Regions from separate parts of the Homo sapiens genome. Here all the other regions are linked to region 1. The links come from fine-mapping of genetic effects on gene expression. A gene starts in region 1. Each other region holds a variant in brackets. All regions are shown on one strand. Distances are from middle to middle. Region 1 holds the start of FBRSL1 (fibrosin like 1). Region 2 holds the start of ANKLE2 (ankyrin repeat and LEM domain containing 2). Region 3 overlaps LOC105370092. Region 4 overlaps FBRSL1 (fibrosin like 1). Region 5 overlaps GALNT9 (polypeptide N-acetylgalactosaminyltransferase 9).

Region 1 (5,123 bases):
CTTTGGGGAAAAACCACCATACTTTGGCAAAAAATGTAGACAACCAAGAGACACGTATGGGATGATCACGAGGTTATGACTTGTGCAGAAGCCCCGTACTTTCCCAGGCAGGCTCCGAAGGGCAGAGGAAGGGACATGAAACCACCCTGGGGTGCTGTGGCTGTGTTAACGCCACGCAGCAGCAGACTTGTCTCACTATGACCTGAGGGGCCAGCTGGTCTAAGCCGAAGTCACCAAAACCCACTGAACCCACTGCCTGCAGGCTGGGGGCACGTGACCCTGCCAGAGCAGGTGGACAGCCAGTCAGAGCCGCTGCGGGCAAAACACGTGGGCCTGGGATTGGCCCTGGATCTCCTGAGTACAGTTCATCTCCTCACTCAGATTCCTGACACACGCATCTGGGGCACTTTCTACACATCGAGCTCTTCCCGGCACCAGACCCCATAGGAGACACACAGGACAGCACAGTGTCTGCTCTCTTTCAGCTTACAAGTTCTTGTGGGAGACGAAAATGGAGAGCAAAGACATTCTAAAACAGCTTTGCAGAGTGGGGATGACAAAAAGAAGGTGGGCAACGTCGACGGGGGTGGGGGGCACCACTTCAGAGGAGTCTGAGGTGACGTTTTTGCAAAGACACAATGGCACCAAACATAAAGCAGACAGAGAACGGCAGGGTACAAGGGCTGACCCGCTCGGAGCAGTGAGGAAGCCGCGGTTAGGGACCCAGGAGGTGCAGGTGGGTGGCGACAGCTCTGGAAAGTGGGCATCCTCGTGGTCTCAGCTGCAGTGCAGGAGCCGAGCGCAGGGCCTGGCTTGCAGTATTGCTCAGTACACGTACAGTCTGTGTCATTATCACCACTGAGAGGGCAGAAGACAGCCCCAGGGCCATCCCGTCCCAGCACAGAGCAATGGCGTGTGCCAGCCCTGGAGCCATCTAATAATGTGCAGGACAGAGGATGGCCAGCCTGTGTGATGAGCCTGGCCACCACCCACCCCGTCCTGGGCCCACAGGAGCCCCAGCTCTGTCCGTGCACTTGGGACACGAAGCCCCAGCTCTGACTGTGCACTCGGGACACGATGCGGCACCTGTTCTGGGGCCACTTCCCTGGCCACCGGCCCTGACCCAAGGCTCTCTACAGTCCCCAGAGTTTGGATGAGAACTTGAAGAGGACTTGCTGCTTCAGGGGCCTGCAGTAGGCATCTCCCCTTTTCCCAAAGCTCAGCTTCTGAGACTGGGGGATCCCAGGCCATGGGCTCCCAAGCCCCTGGAAAAGTGAGAGGGGTTGGAAATGGGGTGATTCTGGGAGTCAAAGTCCAGCAGATGAGGGTCCCCCAAAGTAAGTGCTGCACGGGGCACACCTCGCTGGGCGGGTCTCGGCCCTGGTGCAGGGCAACTTGCTAGCATTCCTGCCCATGCCAGTCCTGGGGAGACAGCGCCTGCCCCAACTCTCAGACAGCATTTAATTTCCTTCTCTGCTCAGCTGAGTTCATGTAAGAGGAGCAGTATTTGCTCAGCAAATACTGTCCGTCAGCCAGACAAGCAATATTTTTGGCCAATCTATTAACCATGCAGCAGGCAGCAGTCACCAAGAGGGGTCTTGAGATTAACCCTCCTTCTCCCCTTCTCAGCAGAGCCCTCGAAGGGAGGAGGGAACGGGATGGCCCGCGGAGTATCCATTTTATCACCACCTCCCTAAGATCCAGCACTGCTCCCTAGCACGTCCTGAACCAGGCAGAGCGATATGCTGGCCACAGAAACACAACTGATAAAAGGCCGACGGTGCTGTCAGACAGCCCCCAATTTCGAAGCGTAGATTTTTTTGCCTCTGCAACTTAAAACGTCCCCAAACCCACCCGACGCTGCTGGGTCTTCCAGATGCGACGGTCTGGGCGAGCGGTGGGCACCCAGGGTCCCTGGAACGGGTACCAAGTGGCCGGGGCTTCCCTCAGGGCTGCCCACGGCGCGGGCGGTCGCAAGCCCAGGGGTCCCGGGATCGCCCGACGCGTCAACTCCGGGCCCCGTTCTCGCCTCAACGCCTGCGAAGCCGCACCCGTCCACCTACCTCCAGGGCCTCCAGGGTGCTGAAGCTGGCGATGGCGAAGCCGTCGATGACCTCCTCCTCCTGCGAGCTGGACTCGCGGCGGCGGCGGCGCGGGGGACGCGCGGTGCGGGGCGCGGGGGCGGCGCCTCGGGGGGGCGCGCCGCGGAGGCCCGCGTTCTCCTTGCCGGGGCTGGGCTCGGGCTCGTCGCCCGACGACGGACTCTGGGCGCGGGCGTCGCGGGCGGCCTCCCGGCGCCGGCCACGGTCCCGCTGCGCGCGCGAGCGCCGGCTCGGGCGGACCTTGGCCTCCATGGCCGCGCGTGCGCCCCGTCGGGCCGGTGACCTTGACGCCCCGCGCCTGGCTCGCAGCAGGCGGGCTCCCTCGGCTACGCGGCGCCGCCGGGCTGAGTGTGCGCCGCGCGGGCTCGGGCCCTGGGCGGCGGCGGGCGGCGGGCCGGGCCGGGCATGCCGGGCGCGGGGGGCGGCTCAGCCCCGGGCCCGGCGCGGCCTGGGACCCCCGGCGCGGGCGGCTGGGCGCATCGGCGGGGGCGGGCCCGGCGCTCAGCGGCCCTCGGCCGCCCCCCCGGGGGCGCGCCCCATGCGCGCGGCGCGGCGATCGGGCCGAGCGGGCGGGGCCGGGCGGGCGCGGCAGGCGGCAGGCGGGAGGCGGCCGGGCTCCTGGGCACCGGGCTCGTGAGGCGGCGGCGGCGCCCCGAACAGATAACAACTGACGCACTTCCGCCCGGCTGCGCTCGCCAGAGGAAGTGAGGGCCGCCGCGGGCGCCCGCGCGCCCCGCCCCGACCACGCCCCTGCCCCGCCCCGCTCATAAGGCTCCGCCCCCACCCCGCACACGCGGCCCGCCCCGCTCACAAGGCTCCGGCCCCTCCCCGCCCCATTCACGCAGGCCCCGCCCCCCGCAGGCTCCGCCCCCTCCCCGACCCGCTCACGCAGGCCCCGGCCCCGCCCCTCCCGGGCGCTCCCGCTAATTCAGGCCCCGCCCCACCCGCAGGTGCCCGCCCTTCGACCTCGCCCCCTAGCCGCGCCCCTCCCCGGCGCCCCGACCTCCGCTGCAGCCGGCGGTGATCCGCTCGGCTCCTTCCTGGGAGGGCGCTGGGATGCCGCGGCCCCTCCGTGGGCACCTGCGGGCGGCGCTCTCCAAGCGGGAGGCGGGGGCAGCGCCGCCCTCCTCTGCGGGACTGGGGTCCCCGGCCGCGGGCGGCTTCCGAGGAGGACGAGGGGCCTCCGGTCTCGCGGAACCGAAGTCCTGCCCTCGGCGAGCGTGGAAGGGACGGGGAAGGGGCGGGGAGGACCGGGGGAGGGTCCTCGGCCAGGCGGTGCCCCCTCCCCGCGTCCCCGCGGACCCTCCCAGGCCTCCTAGGATGCGGGAGGGGTCTGTCCGCGTCCCCGCCCCGCGCCACGTGCCCCCAAGTCCCACAAGAAGGCGGCTCCCGCCACCGAGACCCCCGGGAACGCGCCCAGCGAGGCGGGGGCTGCTGCCAGACACGGAGCGCAGTGTGGAGGGCGGCGCGGGCAGGAAGCGCACGGAGGCGGCTGCGGTTGCGAGGCAGGCGCGGGGCGAACTTCCTCCTCCACCCCCAGGACAGGCCGAGCTCGGAGGGGCCCGCCTGGTGGGGTTTTCTGAGCCCAGGGGCCCCTTGCGCGTGGGCACTGGAGTCATTGATTCATGCAGCGCGTATTTGCCAGATGCCTCCTGTGTCCAGGCTCTGTTGGTGACCCCGCAGCGGCTGAGATAGACTACCCTCTTAGAAGTGGGAGAGAGACCCTGAACACAGGGCCAAATAGAATATCAGCCAAGGATAATCTGAAGAAAATCGAACGGGGAGGTGTCACAGAGAGTGGGCATTGGGTGGTCCAGAGGGCCTCCCCGAGGAGTGACGACTCCGAGCCCCAGCAGTCATGGGCACCCTGTTTCAGGTCGGGGCTACACCCCTGCACAGGCCCTCGGAGAAGAATGGTGGTTTGCTGGAGGGCGGAGGGGAGGGTGCCCAAGACAGTGGTGGGACCCTGCCCTCGGTTGCCCTTAGTGGGAACGGGTCCTCGCCCACTCTGCGGGGTCCACTTTACCCTGCCTCTGGGAGAGCCTACTGGCGGCCTCTTGTGCAGGGCAGGAAGGGTGTGGTCCAGGCACCACTGGCTGTTTGCTGGGCTGAGGCAGTTGGGAAAGTAGCTCACTGGGGTGGGGGGACTTCCTGTTCACCCAGCCTCCTCCAGTCCACCCAGCCCGCTCTCTGGTTCCCTGTCAAAGCCTCCCCAGGGTGGGGGCAGGGTCCCCCTCCCCCTCTTCCCATTCCGGGTTTTGTTAAACCGTGGTTTCACCCTCCAGCATCCTCCCTTTTGATTTTTAAAAGCCTCATTAGGAAGACAGAAACGGACCCCGAGTAGTTTCTCCATGCACGCCTGCTCCCGAATTCCCCTCCCTGGACAGAAGGCCAGGAAATGTGGGCGAGGGTCACCCAGGTGGCATTTGAGGCTCTTGTTTAAATACAGGCCTCTTCCCAAGTAGCCTGGGAGTCCTCACCTGTTCCCCGAGGCTCCCAGAGGCCATCCCACCCTAGGCTGGGCCCAGAGGTCAGTCAGACTGCAAGGGGCATCCTGTGGGCACCCCCTCCCCCCCAGAAGAATTGCTTGGGAAGGTCTGAGGTTTTGGATTTGAAGTTTCTTTCTCTTTTTCTTTTTCTTTTTTTTTTTTTGAGACAGATCTCACTTTGTCACCCAGACTGGAGTGCAGTGGCGTGATCTTGGCTCACTGCAGCCTCCGTCTCCCGGGTTCAAGCCATTCTCTTGTCTCAGCCTCCCGAGTACCCAGGACTACAGGCCTATGCCACCATGTCTGACTAATGTTTTGTATTTTTAGTAGAGATGGGGTTTCGCCATGTTGGCCAAGCTAGTCTCGAACTCCTGACCTCAGGTGATCTACCCGCCTCAGCTTTCCAAAGTGCTGGGATTACAGGCGTGAACCACTGTGCCCAGCCTGAAGTTTCTGATTATAGACATACACTGTTTGTTTATCTGATCTCCGAAGATGTTCAGATGTGTGACCCCAGTGAAGGGCAGGGGCT
Region 2 (5,123 bases), 270 kb before region 1:
CGGCGCCGTCAGGCAGGGCGCGGGCAGCCCGGCGCGGGGTCCTGGGACGGGCGCGGCGCGGGGCGCGGGCTTCTCGGCGGCTGCGGCCCGGGCGGCGGCGATGCTGTGGCCGCGGCTGGCGGCGGCCGAGTGGGCGGCGCTGGCCTGGGAGCTGCTGGGCGCCTCGGTGCTGCTGATCGCTGTGCGGTGGCTGGTGCGGCGGCTGGGCCCGCGGCCGGGAGGTCTGGGCCGCAGCGGGACCCCAGTTCCTCCGCCAAGCGCGGCCGCCGCCCCCGCCTCAGGTAAGGCCCAGGCGGTCGCTGGGTCCCCGCACCCTGGCCCCTTCCCCGCCCCGACGCCCTCCTCGGGCCTGGGGTCCCGGCCGCGCCCCTGGAGCCGGCAGCAGTTGGGCGAGGCGGCCGGGGAAACCAGGGCCGGTCGGGAAAGGCCATTCCGGCCGCGGAAAGGGCAGTTGCGGGGACTTGGCTTCCCGGGCCGGGGGCGGAGGGGCCACGCCGGGTTCGGGGGTGAGAGCTTTCCCGGGCCCTGGAGCAGCCTCCGGGGAAGGCGGCGGGGGCCCGGCGAGGCGTTAGCGGAGACTCTTGCTGCGGTCTCTCGAGACCTGGGGAGGGATGGCCCAAAGGAGGGCGGCGCGGGGAGGAAACCCCTGGGTCCCGGATGTGTTTGGAACGTGAAGCCATTGCGGTTACTGGTCATGGAACATAAGGCAGAGACGGAAAAGGCAAATGTAACTCAGGGGTTTGGGGCCAGAGGAAGAGGGAGAAGGTGGCCATTTATTGCTTTGCGGTAGACTGTCGGGTCTGGGTGATGTGGAGATCAGAGGTGGGTTTTGGTCGTTTTAAGTTTGAGGTAACTGATACAGTGAACTGTGTATTTCAGCTCCATCCCCTTTTCCTGGCATACAACTCTTGAAATCCCGGGAACCTCCAAAGTGATGTCTTTTGTAGGCTGAGTGGACTGGTGGCCGGCAGCCCCTAGGGAGCTTCTGGATGGGGCTGGTCGCAGGAAAGACCAAGGCAGGGTTAGAGGTTCTGGGGACTTTCAGCCCCACCCCCAACCTCTGGGGAGGAGAGAGGGGTGAAGGTTGCGTTGATCACCAGTGGCTGATGAATCACGCCTGTGAAATGAAGTTCCTGTAAAAACCCAAAAGGGCTGGGTTCAGGGAGCTTCCAGATAGTACGTGGGGGTTCCTGGAGGCGGTGCCCAGAGAGGCCCTGAATTTCCAAGCGCTTCCCCCCGGTTTTACGTCACGCATCTCTTCACCTGTATTCTTTGTAATCCTTTATACTCTGCTGGTAAGTGTAAGTAAAACATGTCTGTGAGTTCGGGAGCCACTCTAGCAAATTACCGCAACCTGAGGAGGTCACCGGGTTACGCCCCGTCGGTCCCAAGCGCAGGTCAAACAACCTGGGCACTGGAAGTGGGGGGCAGTCTTGCGGGGCTGAGCCGTTAACCTGTGGGGGTCTGCTGGTATCTCCAGGAAGACGCTGTCAGAATAGATGACTGAATTAGGATGACAGACGACACCCAGCCTGTGTCCACTGCAGAACTGACGACCTGCGTGATTTGTGGGGAGAAAATCCCCACATACCTGGTGTCCGAAGCATGTTGCAAGACTAGTGGGAGAAACTGAGTTTGTTTTTACTCTAAATTGTCAGACTGTTAGTCACTGCGGAGAGGTGCTTTCTGATGATTGAGTGGGGATTCCTGTCCAATTGTGTGAGTTTGTGTCTCGGCCCTACCACTTTTTTTTTTTTTTTTTTTTGAAATGTAGTCTCGCCCTGTGGCCCAGGCTGGAGTGCAGTGGCGCGATCTCGGCTCACTGCAAGCTCCGCCTCCCGGGTTCAAGCGATTCTCCTGCATCAGCCTCCCGAGTAGCTGGGATTACAGGCGCCTGCCACCACGCCCGGCTAATTTTTGTATTTTTAATAGAGACGGGGTTTCACCATGTTGGCCAGGATGGTCTCGAATTCCTGACCTCAGGTGATCCACCTGCCTCAGCTTCCCAAAATGCTGGGATTACAGGTGTGAGCCATCGCACCGGGCCCTACCACTTATTGCTGTGGGCTTAACCTGTTTTCAGCCTGCTCTTTTAGGAATGGGGATGATAGTGATACCTGGTTAGGCTTTTTTGGGAGTTGGGTAAGTGCAGCACTTGGTATGTGTTAAGCACCTCTGAGTGCTGTTACTGTCACCAGCGGCATCATCCAGGCAGAGCTGCGGACAAGGTGGCGGCGGGTGAGGGTGGTGTTTTGAGAATGGCTGAAATAAAAAAATACTGATTTATTTTATATAAAAATATGTTTTTATATATGATGTATAATATACGTATATCATGGCATATGATACGTGTATATCATATAGCACATAT[AGTATAC/C]ATATATATAGTCAGCAGAGATTTAGAGAAACTGGGCCTCGTGCATTGCAGGTGGGGACGGTAAGTGGTGCAGCTACTCTGGGAATCAGCCTGGCAGGTTTTTAGGAAGTTAAACCTGCCCTGCATTCCTGAGCTTTTATTAGACAAATGAAAACTATTTTCACACAAAAACCCATATTTAATGTTCATAGCAACTTTATTTGTAATTACCAGAAACTGAAATAACTCAAATGGTTAAACTTGCACACTGATACCCCGGGGTGCCACTCCGCAGCGATCCTCTCTGCCACGTGGGTGCCCCGGGGTGCCACTCTGCATGATCCACTCTGCCACGTGGGTGCCCCGGGGTGCCACTCCGCAGCGATCCTCTCTGCCACGTGGGTGCCCCGGGGTGCCACTCTGCGTGATCCACTCTGCCACGTGGGTGCCCCGGGGTGCCACTCCGCAGCGATCCTCTCTGCCACGTGGGTGCCCCGGGGTGCCACTCCGCAGCGATCCACTCTGCCACGTGGGTGCCCCGGGGTGCCACTCCGCAGCGATCCTCTCTGCCACGTGGGTGCCCCGGGGTGCCACACTGCGTGATCCACTCTGCCACGTGGGTGCCCCGGGGTGCCACTCCGCAGCGATCCACTCTGCCACGTGGGTGGATCTCAAGGGCATTATGCTGAATAGGAAAAGCCAGTCTCAAAAGTTGTGTACTTGGCCGGTTGCGGTGGCTCATGCCTGTAATCCCAGCACTTTGGGAGGCCGAGGCAGGTGGATCACAAGGTCAGGAGTTCAAGATCAGCCTGGCCAACATGGTGAGGCAGTCTCCACTAAAAATACAAAAAAATAGCGGGGCGTGGTGGCAGGTACCTGTAATCCCAGCTACTCGGGAGGCTGAGGCAGCAGAATTGCTTGAACCCAGGAGGTGGAGGTTGCGGTGAGCAGAGATCGTGCCACTGCACTCCAGCCTGGGCGACAGAGCAAGACTCCATCTCAAAAAAAAAAAAATTGTTAATGGAACATTATAACCCAGTGTTCAGACCTAGCTGTTTCTCACATCTTTACCCATCGATCTGTCAAAGACCTTGTGATCATACTGATACTTCCAATTTCAATGCGACGTCCGCGGGTTTATTCTTTTTTTTTTAGGTGGAGTCTCACTCTGTTGTCCAGGCTGGAGACTCACTGCAACCTCTGCCTGCCCAGTTCAAGCGATTCTCCCACCTAGCCTGCTGAGTAGCTGGGATGACAGGTGCATGCCACCATGCCTGGCTAATTTTTGTGTTTTTAGTAGACACCTGGTTTCATCATGTTGGCCAGGCTGGTCTCAAACACCTGACCTCAAATGATCCATGCACCTTGGCCTCCCAAAGTGCTGGGATTACCAGCATGAGCCACCGTGTCCGGCTCCCTGGCTTTATTCTAATGCAAGAGTCAGTAAACTGTGGTCCAAACTGGCCCCCACCTATTTTCCTTAGTAAAGTTTTATTGGAATACAACCATACCCTTTTGTTTATGTATATCTGTGGCTGTTCTTTTTTTTTTTTTTTTTGGAGACGGGGTCTTGCTCTGTTGCCCAGGTTGGAGTGCAGTGGCACAAACAGGGCTCACTGCATCCTCAAACTCTTAGGCTTAATTTATCCTCCTTCCTCAGCCCCCCAAGTAGTTGGAACCACAGGTGCACGTCACCACACTCAGCTAATTTTTTTTTTTTGAGACGGAGTCTCGCTCTGTCGCCCAGGCTGGAGTGCAGTGCCGCCATCTCTGCTCACTGCAAGTTCTGCCCCCTGGGTTCACACCATTCTCCTGCCTCAGCCTCCTGAGTAGCTGGGACTACAGGCGCCCGCCACCATGGCCGGCTAATTTTTTAGTATTTTTAGTAGAGACAGGGTTTCACCGTGTTTGCCAGGATAGTCTCAATCTCCTGACCTCATGATCCACCTGCCTCGGCCTCCCAAAGTGCTGGGATTACAGGCATGAGTCACCGCGCCCAGCCATCAGATAATTTTTAAAGTTTTTGTAGAAAGGGTGTCGCTGTGTTACCCAGGCTGGTCTTGAACTCCTGGGCTCAAGTGATCTTCCCGCCTCGGCCTCCCCAAGCGCTGGGGTGACAGGTGTGAGCCGCCACACGCGGCCTGTGGCTGTTCTGAGCACTCACGTGGCCTTTGGCTCATAGAGTCTGAGATGCTTACTCTCTCGCCCTTTACAGGAATCGTTTGCTGAAACCCTGTTCTCACTCCCACTTTCCTTTCTGTCATTGAGAGTCCTGGCTCTCATCAGCCACCGTGTATTCCAATTATTTGCTTTGCCCTAGAGTCCACAGAAAATAGCTTTAGGTGTGTTAACCTATACCATTGTGAAAACATCTACTGCCTAGAGCCTGTTCACACGGTAATGGTGCACAGTCCTTTTTGTCTTTCTCCTTAGAGCACCTAGTCACTCACTGTTTTCCAAAGTTACGTAGGTTAGCTTCCCCTGTGTTACTCACTTGTAATACAGTTAGGTGCATTTCTTCTGGCTAGTATTCCATGTGGGTGTCTCCCCCATCTTTTTGTTTATTTACTTATTTCTTTTTTTTTTGTTTTTTTTGTTGTTGTTGTTTTATTGAGGTGGAGTCTCGCTCTGTTGCCCAGGCTGGAGTGTAGTGGTGCGATCTCGGCTCACTGTGACCTCTGCCTCCTGGGTTCCAGCGAGTCTCCTGCCTCAGGTTCCCGAGTAGCTGGGATTACAGGTGCCCGCCACTGCGCCTGTCTAATTTTTG
Region 3 (5,123 bases), 64 kb after region 1:
GAACACATACGGAAGCGTAAACACAGCGGGCCGACTTCAGCCTGCAGCTCAGCCCTGCGGTCTCCTGGGCAACGCGCTGCGTGGGGACATTGTCTCTCACCTGAAAAGCTGCTTACGGGCCCCCACCTCGTCGTGGGTTTAAAGCGGATTAATGGGAGGGTTGGTGGTTCTGGGGCTGGCAGGGCTTCCCAGCAGGGGCAGCCCCTTCATGTGGTGGCGAGCTTGGTAGTGACAACAGGCAGGCCGCTGTGCCCCGGGTGGGTGGCTGGAGCTGGGCGTGGGGTGTCTCCCCGTGAGGACTGTCTGCCCTGCCCGCTGCTCACAAGCCTTCTGCGTTTCCCACCACGCTCTCCTCACCTTCTACTGGGAGGAAGGTCCCAGGGCACGGGAGGGACCCTGTCTAGAGTGGAGCTGGGCTGCCCCATCTCAGGTCATGGGTCACGGCTGCCCCATCTCAGGTGACGGCAGCCCCCTTCAGGTGAAGGCCAAGGCGCGGCTCTTCTCCTCCCAGCCTGAAGCAGATCCTGTTGTCTGCAAGTACCCAGCATCCGATGGCTTCTCACGGCCTCCACCCCGGCCACCTGGTCCGAGACACTGCTGTCTCCGGCCTGGACTGGTGCAGTAGCCAGCAGCTGCTGCTCTCGCCCTCTATGGGGCAGCCTCACACGGCCCGTGGTGCCCCTGCTGGTGCTCAGTCCTTGTGCGCTCCCTCCCTTGAGCATGTGCGGGACCTGTGGTTTATCTCAAATGAATAGAAAATGGCAAAAGCAATGGGGTGTCACTTCCAAATCTGGTCGCGGAAAGACCCTGGTCTATCTTGCTCATCCCTCTCACCCTCTCCCACGGTCTGGTGAAACCAGTGGCTGTGCCGAGAGCTGCCATGGGGCAAGAGACTGAGGGCGGCTTCCAGCTAAACGCCAGTGAGGAGCTGAGGCCCTGAAGAACTGAATCCCGCCCAGAACTACATGCCTGAGCTCGGAGCCATTTCTTCCCCATGGGAGATGAGACCCCTGCCCAGCTGAGTCCGGATTGCAGCCTGTGAGACCCTGAGCCTGCGGATCCAGCCAAGCCATACCTGATCCTTGATCTAAGGAAAATGGGAGCTGATAAGTGTGTGCTGTTTTCAGCTGCCAAGTGTGGGACCCTTTGTGATGCTGGAGTCAGTAGATGCCGCAGGCTCACCCCGCCCTCTCCTCCCAGCCAGCATGATTATGTCAAGACCAGATCAGCTCACAGCACTTCCCTGCTCATGGCTCCTAGTGTCTCAACAGCCCCAGGCCCTGCCCCATTTGTCACCTCCCAGCCACCCACCCCAGGCCCTGCACTGTTCGTCACCCCCTGGCCACTGCCTGCTCCCCAGGCCTGCCCTGTTCATCACCCCCCCAACAGGCCTTGAACCATTCATCACCCCCCGGCCACCAGCCCCAGGCCCCGCCCCGTTCGTCACCCCCCCCCGCCACCCACCCCAGGCCCCGCCCCGTTCATCACCCCCCCACCGGCCACCCGCCCCAGGCCCTGCTCCGTTCGTCACCCCCCGGCCACCCGCCCCAGGCCCCGCCCCGTTCGTCACCCCCTGGCCACCGCCTGCTCTTTCCTTGCTTCCTGGCCTTGAGCCACATGGGGCAGTTTCCTGAACATTCCCACTGTGTTTGCACAGGAGGTTCCCTCTGCCTGAGATGCTGCTCCCTCACGCCTTCCAACATCAGCTTCTCAGTGAGCCCCTCCCTGATCTCTCTGCTTAGCCTCAGATTCCTCCCGTGTCCCTGCCGCTCCTGCTTATTTGTCTCTGCAGGATTCATCAGCATCGGGCCCTTCCAGCTGTCAACCTACCCCCGCTGCCACTGGGACGCACACTCCACAAAAGCAGGGTTCTCCTGTGTCTTCTCTCTCCCCTGCAGCACCCCCAGGGCCTAGAGCAGTGTCTGACACACGGTGGAGTCTCAGCAAACATTTGTTCAAGGAGTAAACCGCAGGAGTGGAGGGCAAATCCAAGCGTGAGCCTGAGCCTGCGTTGCTGCGGGAATGTGAGCAGGTGCCCCGGTCCACCCCGGCAGAGGCCTCCCCCGCCCAGCGCGTTTCGCCACATCTCCTCTGGCCAACTGAGTCCTCGCAGAAAGGTGTGTCAAACAGATCATTCCTCCACCTGCATCCCTGAGTGAGGACAAACAGCAGGTCCCCTGAGGACGTGTGAGAGCAGTTGCCTGAGTGAGAGATACGCCTTCGCCATTGAAGGCACTGAGTCTGGGGACTGTTTGTTAGAGCAGCAGAACCAAGCAATCCTGACAGCGCAGAAACCAGCTCCAAGAAATGAGGTGCTGCCGCAGCCACAGGGCACCTGGAGCACGTGTCCTGCTCACGTGGAGGACAGAGAGAAGGCGGGGCAGAGGCCGGAGCACACTCGGTGTGGAACACTCGGTCAGACTGGACTCGGCAACTTGGAAGTTGGACCATGAACCTGACGAAACCGCAGCTCTAGGGAAAGGCTGGAAAATCGCACGTCGGCAGACATGCCAGTGAGATCTTTTGAGGAGCCAGACCCAGACAGGAATTGTCCATCCTGCCAGCAGGCGTGAAAGTGAACAAGGAGATTTCAAAATATGACACTCCCAGAAAGCTGGAAGAGCCGGCTGACTGTAGACTCCAAGTGATCAAGAAAGTGCACTGACAAAAGTCTCAAGCAGGGCACGGCGTCACAGCCTTGTTCATCTCCCGTGCATCGAGGCGTCTCATGGTGAAGGTGCCATGTGGGCATGGTGATTTTCACTTGGACAAAACGGCGCAGGGGAAAGTGACC[A/G]GGTAGGGAGAGGAGGATGACGTCCCTGAAACTCAGCTGAGCCATCGGCATGGGCGGAAGGCTTTGTGGCCCTGGGAAGGTCGATGGCGGAGGAGCTGCAGGGGTGGCTGCTGCATGTGGAGCTGGCTGAAGCCAGAGATGAGAAAGCTCCTGGGGTCTCGAGAGAGTCGCGATGACAGGATGGCACCCACTCAGTCTACAAGAGAAACGTGTGCGTTAATGCAAACCACCACTAACTCCTGCGACCAGGAGGTGGGCGGCGAAGACTCACCGGCCCCAAGGAAGGCGTGTCCTGGGTACCCACCTCGTACTGGCCGAGAAGGGTCATGGAGGAATCAGAAACCTCTCGGAGGGCAGAGCCAGGGGCCTCGGAGGATGGCAGAAAGGGAGGTGACCTTCAGGTAGGAACTGAATCTGGACTGAGTGAGGGAGCGTGGACCAGCACCAGGGTGGGTGCTCAGGGGCCTTCCCGGGGGTTTCAGGTCCTCTGTGGACCAGCGACTGCCGCCATCTCCCTTCTCTCTCTCCCTGCTGCTGGGGCCATCATGTCCATTCCCTGCCACCCACTGTGCACCGAGCATGAGGGAGGCAATGACCAATCTCTTCAGTCTGTGAGTCTCCGGTGAAGAGGTGTCTGGGGTCACCCAGACCCGATATGGCTGTGATTTGGGGTCGTCTCACCTGGGGAGCCATGACGGGGAGTGAACACAGTCGATTAGTCCAGAAGGCAGACGTGGAAGTCAGTGGCGCCGCCCACTAATATTTTGGCCTCCTTTTCCAGACGCATTTAGGATTATGCTTTCCCTCTCTCTCCAAGTTAGGCCCGGCCATGTGACCTGCTTTGGCCAATGAAATTCTAGCCTTTAAACACGAGTTCATGATGCTTCCTGCTTTGGGGATTGTGGATGTGTGTTGACACCTGGGTCCCTGTCCCCCAGTGATGACAAAGAGCAAAGGCACCTGCTGGCCCACGCTGGACACACATGTGAGAAAGACATGCATCTGTGAAGTGCTCAGCTGCTGTGGTGTGGGGCTGTTTGTTACACAGCCCAGCCAAGCCCAGCCTGACTGATACACTCCCTCAAGCATGAATAGGGCTCTGCCTCTCCAATGAGGGGAGTGGGGCCCAGGGCTGTTTCTCAGCGATGTCCAGAACACCTTACTCCTAGGTCCCCCAGAAGCAATGACAAGAAACACCACAGGAGGCATCTGTGGAGGAGCTGGTCGTGGCAGGGTGGGCACAGCTCTGCCCTGCTGTGGAAGGAGTTGACGATCCCCCAGGGCCCTGTCCCCGAGGGAGGGCCTGGTCTCCTGAGCAGTGTCCTGGATCGGGGCTGGCGTGTGAGTAAAAGTGGGTCCAGCCCTCCCCACCCCAAGCTGGGAGAGGTGAGACCCCCACAGCCCACTAGGCGCCAGTGACTGATGGGCCCGCCACTGTCTTCACAGCCCCCAGAGTTCTCTGGTAATCACAGGCGTGGAACATGTGCCAGGAACCTTTGGTTTGCGTGTACCTTTAGATGCTCGGATTAAATTACACCCATAATGCATTATGTCATTGATAATAATATCACTGTGTATAAGACACGGCGTGGAAGGAGCCTGCTCCTGGACGGTTCATCCGTCTCTTCACACACAATTTCCATACGTGACTAAAGATCACCATTTTAACAGCCTTTGGTGCAGACACTGAGAGGCAGTTGCAGAGTTAACAGCGCATAAATCTCATTTCCTCTGCACTCCATTTTTCTCAGGCTGCAGAATCAATTTGAGTCTGTCAGGATTTTATTCCAAAGTCTATTAACGGCCCCCGCTTCCTTCTACTCCCCCGCCCACCGCCTTCCCCTTTCGTGAACTCAGTCCTGCAGAAAAAGACGCCTTGCTGATACAAAGTAACAGCCTTTTATCTCTTTACAACAAAATCTAACTAGGCGTGAAGGAGACGCAGCTGGGACAATTAGGCGAGGGTGGAGGTCACTGGCCTGGGGATCCCGCAGCCCAGGCCCTTGTGGGTCTGCAGCTGGGTCCTGGATGCGTAGCTCCCGCCCTGGGAAGGGAAACTGCTGGGCCTTTTCCGCGTGCCCCGCGGGCAGGAGGTGCTTTCTGGAGGGCAGCCCATGTTCTCTCTGTGGATCCAGTTGCCTCGCCCAGGGGAGGTCTCTGCTGTGACAGTAACTTAGAGGTGCAGCCGCCCTTCTGAGTCACGCACACATCAGGGTGAACCCCACAGCACCCGCTTGCTGGCCCCACTTCACAGGCGGGGAACCAGGCACAGAGAGGTTGAGTGATCTGCCCGAGGCCACACAGCACAGTGGCAGAGCTGGGGCCCGGT
Region 4 (5,000 bases), 23 kb before region 1:
ACCTTATTAATTTTTTTTTTTTTTTTTTTTTTGAGACGGAGTCTCACTCTGTTGCCCAGGCTGGAGTGCAGTGGCGTGATCTCAGCTCACTGCAACCTCCACCTCCTGGGTTCAAGTGATTGGCATGCCTCAGCCTCCCAAGCAGCTGGGACTACAGGTGTGCGCCACCGTGCCTGGCTAATTTTTTGTATTTTTAGTAGAGACGGGTTTCACCATGTTGGCCAGGCTGGTCTTGAACTCCTGACCTCAAGTGATCCACCCTCCTTGGGGTCCCAAAGTGCTGGGATTACAGGCGTGAGCCACCGCACCTGGCCTGCCTCATTAATTTCTGTATTTCTGTTCTTGTCTATACTATGGCTTTCCTTTATAGGTTTACAAACCTTCCATTTTTTTTTTTTTTTGGTTTCTTAAGGTAAAACCTTAAGATTCTAGACCTTTCTTCTTTTCCCATATAAGCACAAGCTAGTTTTCCTTTAAGGATTGCTTTAGCTGCATCCCATAAATTTTGACGTAGTATTCCTTATTTTCTAGTGAAATTCAGGTCAGAGATTCAGGAGGTGGAAGCTAAGGACCTGCCTGGCTGGGTGTGCTGGGTGGGAGGACAGGGGAGTGAGGAGAGGAGAATGACTGTCAACTTCTAGCCCAGTCATCTGGGTGGTTCCAGGTTCACCCACTGAAATGGGGAAAGACAGAAGCTGGTGTGTCTGGTTTGTCTGTGCCAAGTGAGGGGTGCATCCTGGGTCTCGGCAGGACACTCTGGCCTGATGCATGAGGTCTGGCCTCAAACCATAGAGCCGATGAGGTAGAGGATGAGGAGACAGACAGCAGGCGCCTGGGAACAGCATGGGCATGAGATAAGCACTCACAGAGGGTATATTGTTCTGGACCCCCCACACCTCCCTGCTGTCAGCCTTGTGGTTATTGGGCGCAGAAGCTGCCAGTCTAAACTCAAGTGTTGTAAATGTAAAACACCTGCTGGCTTTCCCAGACTCTACAAAAAAAAGAGTAAAAAAGATGTGACAATTTTTATATAGATTACATTGTTGAAATACTATTTTCAAAGTACATGGAGTGAAACGCAATACTTCATTAAAATGAATTTTACTTATTTCTTCTTAACTCTATATGTGGCTCACATAACACTCCTATTAAACAGTGCTGCCCTAGGAGAGTCCAGGGCCCTACCCACCCCTGCTGGATGAGAAGCTGCACTCTGCCAGGTCCCAGGGTACACCAGGGAGCCCTCTAGGTCGTGTACCGGCCCTAGGAGAGGCTTCGTGCCAAATCCCTGCACCATGGCCGGGACTGTGGCTCAGCATGAAAACCCTTCTTCCTCGGAGTCCCCCCACAGCTTTGCACCGTGGCCGGGCCTGTGGCTCAGCATGGAAACCCTTCCCCCTCGGGGTCTCCCCACAGCTTTGTGAACTGCTAGGGATGTCCCCTATCACTGCAGCTTCTGGCCGGAGGAGGATGGCCGGTGGCCTCGGCCTGGTCAATGCCAGTCCAGCTCAGTCTGGTACTGCGGTCCTGGGCCACCTGGGAAGACGCCAGGGAGGCCAGAGAGATCCTGGGTCAGGCCGCAGCCCTGCTCAGATCCCTCCGAGGCCCCAGGACTCCCCCTGGACTTCTGGGCGGCCCTGGGTCTCCCTTGGGCACCTGCGGGTAGTCCTGCCTTCTGGCCTCTGAACATCCAGGTGCCCCCCCAGCCCCCCACTCATGCCCTCTGTGTCTTTGCCCTCACCACAGTCGCCCAGCATGCTATCCCAGCCTGTCTCCCCACACACGGAGGAGCCGAGCCCTGACGCGAGAACAGAGGCGGAGCTCATCGTCCTCAGTGCCCAGACAAGGATCCCGAATGAGCAAACGGGGAAGGCCCAGGAGGTGGTGTTTCCAACACGCAGGGCAGGGCCTGGGGGAGGGACTGTGGCTATTCACCTGCAGTGAGGGGTCCAGAGAGACGGGGCCCTCGGACGAGGGTCTGCAGGCAGATGCCCACACACCAGGCGTGGATGCTGGGCCAGGTGCCGGGAGCCCACCCACGCTCACACCCCTCCCTCCCTGGGGGCTGCTCAG[C/T]GATGGCTCATGGACTTGGCCTGACCTGGGGAGGACCCAAGGGCCTTAGAGCTCCAGGCCCCTCGTGGGGTTGGCCCCACCGCCACAGTCTCAGTGTCACCCATCTTCCAGGAATCCACCCCGACCTCCCCTTCTCCTCCCCCAACAACAAACCAACCACTGCCCTCGTCTGCCGTGGGCTCTGCAGGAACACGCCTCGGCCTCTCCCAGAAGGCTCACGCCCTCCCCATAACCCCTTCTGCAGATGGGAGGGGACCAGCCTGCCTGTGCCAACAACAACAAGGTGGGCAGAGGCCCCCACAGAGGTGACCAGAGGGCTGATGGTCACTAAAGCACTGCACGCAGGCCCCAGTCTCCAGAGGGGTTCCTGAGGCAGCAACAGGGTCTCTGTAGTCGGGCAGCGGGCAGCCTCCCCCAGATCCCCACTGTCACCCCCCGGAAGACACCTCCATCCTCAACCTTCAGGCTGGGCTGCCCCCACCCCCTCTACAGCAGCCAGGACACAAGCCCATCTTCCTGGGCAGGCGCAGCCCCACTGAGTACCAACCCCTTCCAGAAACAAGGGAACAAGCCATGTTCCAACCAGGCCTCAGGCTCCAATCTGCTGCCTGTGATGGGAGCCAAATCCCACTTGCCGGAGGCCTCGCAGGCCCACAGCTGCATCTTCTGGTCAGCAAAGTGAGTCATAAAAATTAGAATTGACCACCAACATTTCAACATTGCCAAATCCAGAGAAACCTGGATTCCCAGCTCTTCAGAAACATCAAAGATCTGGCCACACGAAATCTGCATTTCCCAGGGCGACGCCTGGCAGCAGTGTCCCCACCAGGGCGCGGGCCCCAGGACACAACATGGATGTCCAGCACCATAGCGCCCTGGTGTCTCTGCCCTCCCCATGGCGGCACCCCGACCGCAAGCCAGTGCAGACAGTGGGTTCGAGCTGGAGGCTGCAGGGTCATGGCCAGGCCTCGAGAGCCCCTCTGGGTCCTGAATGTTTCCTCCACGGGTGTCCTCTGCACCCCCAGCTGTTGGCCACAGGGACCCAGGCTGCAGTTTCCAGCTCTCCTCAGCCCTCCCTGGCAGCCTGGCCTTCCCCATTAAGGGGCAGCCAAGTGCCACTGCTCAGCTCCAGCATGGATGGCCCCTCCCCACTCCCTCAGCCCGTTCAGGCCTGCCCCAGACATGGCTCTACTCACTCGGCCCCCTCTGTACTCACAGGAGCCCGGGGGTAGGGGCAGGGGCCTGAAAGTGGAAAGAGGGCAGGAGACTGTTTAAATCATCACTGTTCCCCACGCCTGACAACAGGGACGTCTGAAGGCAACTTCAGCCCCTCTGCGGGGCAATGGCTTGTGTGGGTGACTCTGAGATGGCACCGCCCTCCAAGCCCGCACCCCAAGTGTGCCAGGTCCAGCCTGGAGCTCAGCCAGGGCGCTGCAGCCAGGACTCGGCCCCTCCATGCCCCGGCCTTCCGTGAGCAGAACACAAGCACCTGACAGGCTGTGCAGAGGATGCTGGGCTGAACCATGCTCCCTCACGCGTGCCCAGGCCATGCAGAGGACTCTGAGCTGAACCACCCTCCCTCACCAGTCCCCAGGACACTGATCCCGGGGATGGGTGCCCCCCAGGCATGAGCCGAGAGGGGGGTCTCGACCCCTGTCACACTGGCCCACACAGTAGCCTTGCGGTGGGGGGATCTGGAGGCCGGTGCCCCCATGCTGAGCACAGTACAAACCCCCATTCCAGGCCTCAGATGGGTGGGCAGGAAGGTCAGGAACAGATGCTCCAGGTCTCCCCTCTGTTCGGTCAGAGTGCAATGAATCCCGAGCCAAGCCCAGCACAAAAGCCCTTTGTGGGAATAAATCACGTAAGACACATGCTCGTCTGTTTAAATTACAAACGCTGATGCTGTTATAAAAAATAGTGGCACGGCACTTTTTATTTTCTTTAATCAGAAAAATAAGCCCTGCGCTTCTGGGATGGAGGCCCCAGGTGAGCACCGGAGGAAGGGGCCCGGGTGGGTGGGGAGCGAGGGGGCCCGGAGGCCAAAGCAGATGCTGCACCAGAGGCTGGTCAGGACCCGGGAGGGCCTGCGGGGGTGGGGTCCTCATGAGCAAGTGCGGGGTGCTGGAGGTCAGCAGCTGCCTGGCCTGGGAGCCAGGGACACCCATCCCCTTCCTGACACCTGAGGCAGCCCAGCTGGGCAAGACCAGGCCTGCAGGACCAGAGCCTCCTGTCACGTGGCGCAGGGGTCCAGGTGGTCAACGCTGCTCTCTGGAGGACCACTGGTTAGAGCCTGCCCAGCTCCCCTGAGGTCTGGAGACAGTCAAAGCCCCCCCAAACACCCCCTCCCTTTTGGGCGAGTGGCGTGCCTTGGACTCCAGAAGACTCGAGTGGGGCTGCCTTGAGACCAGGTCCTGAGGGGGTGGCAACACCTGACCACAGGTGGGGGCCGTGGAAGGGGCAGGGATGGGCCCAGGGGTAGCCTTGTAGTGTGAGGTGTGCCCGACCACATGTAGGTCAACAGCCAGACGGGACGCTGCAGGGGACTGTGGGGAAGCCGGGAGAAGGCGCTGCCCACCCTGTGGGGTCCCCCTCGCCTGGAGACCCTGCAGGCAACCCTTCAGTGCATGCCCACGGGGGTGGTGGAGGCAGAGTCCTGAGAGGTGGGGGTGGGAGCCTCCGGGTCCCCTGCAGGTCCTGACCCACCAGATGGGCCCATGTGCCCCCTGTAGCTTGGGGGCCCTGGAGGTGGACACCAGCACCTCCTGACTACCAGGGGGAGGGCCTGGACTGAAACCCACACCTTCACCATTCGCCACTGGGCCACTCTGCAGGAACTGCAGCACCCCACAGATCCTTCATGCCCAGCACGCCACTCACTCTCACACCCTCTCGCACACATGCACACACAGCACGCACACACCAGG
Region 5 (5,123 bases), 280 kb after region 1:
TCTTCTCAATTCAACCATTAAGATGGTCAGCTTCCCTGACCGCAGCACAGCCTGCCCATGCCAGCTCTGCACAGCCCCACAGCCCAGGAGGACGGGGCTCGGGCCTCAAGCATGCCTGTGTCTCACCGCCAGTTAACCCCACTCGCCACCCATCTCCGCTCAGAGCTGGGGTTCAGGAAGCCGTCCCCAGCCAGGGCGCACCTCCTGCCCAAGCCTCATGGCCCCACTCAGTCCTCCAGCTGCACCCACACGTGATGAGTGTGACGTCTGAGCCTCGCCTGCCTCCCCTCTAGATGACAGTTTCACGATGAAGGCCGCATGTCCCCAGCGCTTCCAGGAGAACCCTACGAGCCCTGTTGCTTTGCTTGCCTTGACCAGAAGAACAGGTCCGACTTCACGGGACGGCCTCGCCCGCAGGCCCTTTGCCAGGCCCACAGCGCCGCCAAAGACAACGTCAGTCCTGAATGTACAGGGGGAGTTTTTGACCCAACGCCCACGCGCAGCAGGGCCCCTCTCCTGTCTCTCCTCTCGCTGTGATGTGCCAGCCCGGGGCCTGCAGACGACGGGCCCCAGGGACCCACCCATCTCTGGAGGAGTCTCCTGTTTTCCCATCTCTGGCCTCTGCAGTTAGTGACGGCCCCTCAGCCTTGGTGTGTCACCCACGCCACCCGTGTCTTCCTCGTGTGACCAGAAAGGGGTCCCCATCCAGACCCCAAGAGAGGCCTCTTGGATCTTGTACAAGGCAGAATTCGGGGCGAGTCCACAGAGTAAAGTGAAAGCAAGTTTATTAGAGAAGTAAAGAAATGAAGTAAAGAGAAGAATGGCTGCTCCACAGGCAGAGTGGCCCCCAGGGCTGCTGGTTGATTATTTACTAATTAACTTTTGTGGTTATTTTTTGATCATTTGCTAAACAAGGGATGGATTATTCCTGAGTTTTCTGGGAAAGGCAGCAGGATTTCCCCGAACTGAGGGCTCCACCCTTTTTAGACCACGCAGGGTAACTTCCTGACGTTCCCATGGCATCTGTGAACTGTCTTGGTGCTGGGGGGAGTGTCTTTTAGCAGCTAATGCATTATAATGAGCATAAAATGAGCCGTGAGGATGACCACAAGTCACTCGTTGCCATCTTGGTTTTGGTGGGACTTGGCGGCTCCTTTACTGGAACCTGTTTGTTTGTTTGAGATGAAGTCTTGCTCTGTCACTCAGGCTGGAGTGCAATGGTGCGATCTCGGCTCACTGCAACCTTTGCTTCCCAAGTTCAAGCAATTCTCCTGCCTCAGCCTCCCAAGTAGCTGGGACTACAGGTGCACGCCACCATGCCCAGCTAATTTTTTATTTTTTATTTATTTATTTATTTATTTTTTTTAGTAAAGACGGCATTTCACCATGTTGGCCAGGATGGTCACGATCTCTTGACTTCATGATCCACCCACCTCAGCCTCCCAAACTGCTGGGATTACAGGCGTGAGCCACCGCACCCGGCCTACTGCAACCTATTTTATCAGCAAGGTCTTTGTGACCTGTGTCTTGTGCCGACCTCCTATCTCATCCTGTGACTTAGAGTGCCTTCACCATCTGGGAATGCAGCCCAGTGGGTCTCAGCCTCATCTTACCCAGCCCCTGTTCACGATGTGGTTTGAATGGCTCTAATGCTTGGACTTCCGCCCTGGCTGTGGGGCCAGATGGTCAGGTAGCACGGGGGTGACCACAGGCATCGTCACCCAAACCAGGACACCTGAGAGTTACCAGAGGTGCTATTAATAATTACCCCAAGACAGGGGTATCAACTCGGATTGTCTTGGGCAGTGGGGATGCATGGCTAGTAACTAGCATTAACTGGTACTATGTGCTGCATGCAAGGAAGCCACAGGAGTGAGGGTCTTTGCCAGCTGTACCTGCCAAAGCAGCATGGATGGGTCAGCTCTTGGATGTGTAACAATCCACTCTGAAATGTTGCGGCCTAAGACAACCATTTCCTTGGCCCACAACTCTGGGTTGGCACATGGTCTATGTGGAGCAGAGCGGCTCTGCTCTCAGCTGGCCTTGCTGATGCCGGCAGTCAGCAGCCAGGTGAGCGGGGTTGGCTGGTTGGGGTGGGGAGGAATGGGCTCAGCTGGGCGGCTTCTCTCTGCTCCACATGGTCTCTCATCCTCATGCTGGCGGCCAGGTTACAAGACAGAGATCGGTGTGAGTGCAGTCTCCTGAGGCCCAAGCTTGGCCTTGGCACTGGGTGGGTTCTGGCCCTTTCTGTTGGTCCAAGCAAATCACGTGACGAAGGCCTAGGGTGATAGCGTCCCCCTCTCAGTGGGGAGAGCTGCACACACAGACGCCAGAAGGCGAGTCCAGCTTATCCCCAGTTGCTCTCAGTGCAGAGTGCCAGCCGGGCTCCGGCCTCCTTCACCTGATCTTCCTCTAGTGTGGCCAGGAAGGGGAGGGGCCCGGGCCTCCTGCCTCTTGAGAGCCCCTGAGAGGGGGGCCAAGTGCCTCTGGCTCCTGTGGGAGGATTTTGCCTGATCCTTAGGTGTTGGTCTCCTCTGGCCCACAGAGTGGAGAAGTTATTGCCAATATTCATCTGAAATTTATAGAGGGGTTAAACTGTTTCCCTTGAGACTGTGATGGGAGAGCCTTTAAATTCTCCCTCTGCATAAGCATCAATCTCCCGGGGAGCGCGGCACAAGGCAGATGATATACTGGTCCCTGGCTTCAAAATATGTGAAAAACTACACGGTCATTAACTCTGACGCAGAAAAGAGACCTGCCCCGGGTGTGGGGACGCCACACACCAGTGCTGCTTG[C/T]GCGAGGAGTCGTGGTGGGGGGTGGGGGCTGTCTTGTTCTTTCCCTGTTTTGCAGGGATTGGAAAGGGGATGTTGCTGAGGGCATGGGGGTTCACTCTCCGACTTTATCACTCCTGAGCTAATGGCCCTGCTGAAAAGCCAGGTCACGCAAGCCGTGGGCCCTTGTGCTTAGGGGGCACCTCACACACCCCGAAAGCTCAGGGGTCTGCGGCCCAAGCCCGGAGACTGAAGCAGCCCAGTCCCCGGCTGTGACAGGTCCTCAGCTAATGATGGAAGTTGGCCGACTCCCACCGCCCGGGAGCCTCGCCTCTCCCGTAGCTTCGGTCCTTCTAGAGACACGGTGGGGGACCCGAGGGCCGAGAGACCTGAGGCTGCATTCACCCAAGAAGGGGCCTCGGCACCACCCGCAAGCTCAGCACACACTGACGGGGCTGGCACCTGTGGAGCTGGCTTGGGGAGGCCTCGCAGACCGCCCAGCAGTCCCACCAGGTTCCCATGTGGAATCGCCCCAGCGCCACAGAAGGCCCCGGGGACAGAGTGGCCGTAAGTGGCTGTGGGGTTCCTAAAGGGAACACATTCGTTCCGCAGCTATTTATCAAGCACCTACTGTGTGCCCGGCCTCGCTCTGAGCACTGGGAGGCAGCTGTGAGCAGAAGCGACAGAAACCCTGTCCTGCGGAGCTGAGCCATGGGGAGGGACAGGCAGAGACGGGGACGGATAGCAGGCGGCGCCATACTGAGGGGTGTGAGCCTCTGGTCCGGACGCCCAGCTATGGGGCAAGGACGGCGGCTCTAAACAGGATGGAGGGAGAGGACTCACCCTGAAGACTTGATGGTGACATTTGGGGTTTATTTTTACTTTTTATGTTTTCAGACAGGGTCTCACTCTTTAACCCAGGTTGGAGAGCGTTACGTGATCTTGGCTCACTGCAGCCTCAACCTCCCGGGCTCAGGTGATCCTCCCGCCTCAGCCTCCCAAGCAGCTGGGACCGCAGGCATGCACCACCACACCTGGCTAATTTTGTTTTTTTCTGTGGAGGTGGTGTCTCACTATGTTGCCCAGGCTCGCTGGTTTTTTTAATGGACAAATAGGATTGTCCCCGTTCACGGGGTATGGCGTGCCGCACTCAGGTCAGCCGCCATCTCCACATTTGCCATTTCCTTGTGTGGGGGCTCGGCTCCTCCTCCCAGTTGCCGGCTGGGTCACGGTCAGGTCCACGGTCCTCCCTCAGCGGCACCAGCACTGGCTCCTCTCTGCCTGTGGTTTTGGTCCTTTTTTTTTTTTTTTGAGACGGAGTCTCGCTCTGTCGCCCAGGCTGCAGTGCAGTGGTGTGATCTCAGCTCACTGTCACCTCTGCCTCCCGGGTTCAAGAGATTCTCATGTTTCAGCCTCCTGAGTAGCTGGGACTACAGGCATCTGCCACCATGCCCAGCTAATTTTTGTATTTTTAGTAGACATGGGGTTTCATCATGTTGGCCAGGCGGTCTCGAACTCCTGGCCTCAAGTGATCCACCCACCTCGGCCTCCCAAAGTGCTGGAATTACAAGTGTGAGGCCCCTGTGCCCGGCTGGTTTTGTGCCTTTAACTAATCTCTCTGGCACTAGAGCTTTGAAGGCTGGAGGCAGTGGAGCATGCAGAGACCTGGGAAGGGCGCCCGGCGTGGGCACCACCTGTGCCAAGGCCCTGAGGGGTGCACGTGGGGGTGCTGGGAAGGCCAAGGTGCTTCGAACCCAGGGGGTGGGCAAGGCAGGCGTCAGGAGCCCTGGGGGGCTTCGTGTTCCCCAGCGTGAGGCCCGAGGACAGGATTCTGTGGTGGGTGGGGGGACCGAGTCACCGTGGCCTCTGTACTGGGGGTAGACAAGGAGGCTGAAACTGCTGGAGGTCGTCCCAGAGGCCAGTGTGCCAGGCGCTTCTGAAGACGGGTGGGCAGACGATGGAGGACGAGGCTCTGTCCCGCCCCTGCAGAGCTTCCTTCGTTCCGGCCCCTTCCAGCGAAGGGCAGGGCTCCGAGGTGCTTCCCCCCTCCTTCTCACGAAACCTGGGTGGTCTCAGGTTGAGGGTGGGAGACATCCGCGGAGTGGGAGGGCGGTGGGCGGGATTCACCAGCGGGGCCCCTTCCCGCTGCGAACAGAAATCCCGACCCTAGTCTGGAAGGCAGAAAGGAAGCCCCGGCTCAGGGGGCTGGAAAACCCCAGGCTTTTCTCAGGCAGGTTGTCCCACAGCAGAGACAACAGACAGAAACCCAGAAACCACCTGCCACGATGTGAACCTGATGCAGAAACGCGGTTCGCTCCCTCGGGATGCAAAGGCCAACTTCAGCCTGGCACG

The links.
Region 2: its variant is fine-mapped to the expression of FBRSL1 in whole blood (INTERVAL, PIP above 0.99).
Region 3: its variant is fine-mapped to the expression of FBRSL1 in pancreas (GTEx, PIP above 0.99).
Region 4: its variant is fine-mapped to the expression of FBRSL1 in whole blood (TOPMed, PIP above 0.99).
Region 5: its variant is fine-mapped to the expression of FBRSL1 in T cells (TOPMed, PIP 0.95).

What each region holds. Positions count from the first base shown.
Region 1 is chr12:132,487,802-132,492,924 of GRCh38, reverse strand. FBRSL1 (fibrosin like 1) reads right to left here and starts at 2,774. Exons shown (of 19, transcript NM_001367871.1): 1 at 2,064-2,774. The coding sequence starts at 2,354. RefSeq lists enhancers at 340-409, 1,123-1,686, 3,684-3,813 and silencers at 2,844-3,293, 3,424-3,493.
Region 2 is chr12:132,756,776-132,761,898 of GRCh38, reverse strand. ANKLE2 (ankyrin repeat and LEM domain containing 2) reads left to right here and starts at 67. Exons shown (of 13, transcript NM_015114.3): 1 at 67-281. The coding sequence starts at 101. RefSeq lists silencers at 29-618, 4,277-4,456 and an enhancer at 1-721. The variant AGTATAC/C (reference allele first, on the strand shown) is at 2,372.
Region 3 is chr12:132,423,725-132,428,847 of GRCh38, reverse strand. LOC105370092 reads left to right here. Exons shown (of 4, transcript XM_047429966.1): 4 at 1-4,341. Among named protein-coding and RNA genes, the nearest start is that of MUC8, 48 kb to the left of the region's middle. RefSeq lists an enhancer at 1-173. The variant A/G (reference allele first, on the strand shown) is at 2,795.
Region 4 is chr12:132,510,932-132,515,931 of GRCh38, reverse strand. All of the region lies in intron 2 of FBRSL1 (fibrosin like 1), which reads right to left. Among named protein-coding and RNA genes, the nearest start is that of FBRSL1, 23 kb to the right of the region's middle. The variant C/T (reference allele first, on the strand shown) is at 2,074.
Region 5 is chr12:132,205,606-132,210,728 of GRCh38, reverse strand. The region is part of intron 6 of GALNT9 (polypeptide N-acetylgalactosaminyltransferase 9); the gene reads left to right. It overlaps LOC105370091 (a long non-coding RNA gene), which reads right to left. Exons shown (of 6, transcript XR_007063541.1): 5 at 5,049-5,123; 6 at 3,628-4,942. Among named protein-coding and RNA genes, the nearest start is that of LINC02361, 18 kb to the right of the region's middle. The variant C/T (reference allele first, on the strand shown) is at 2,796.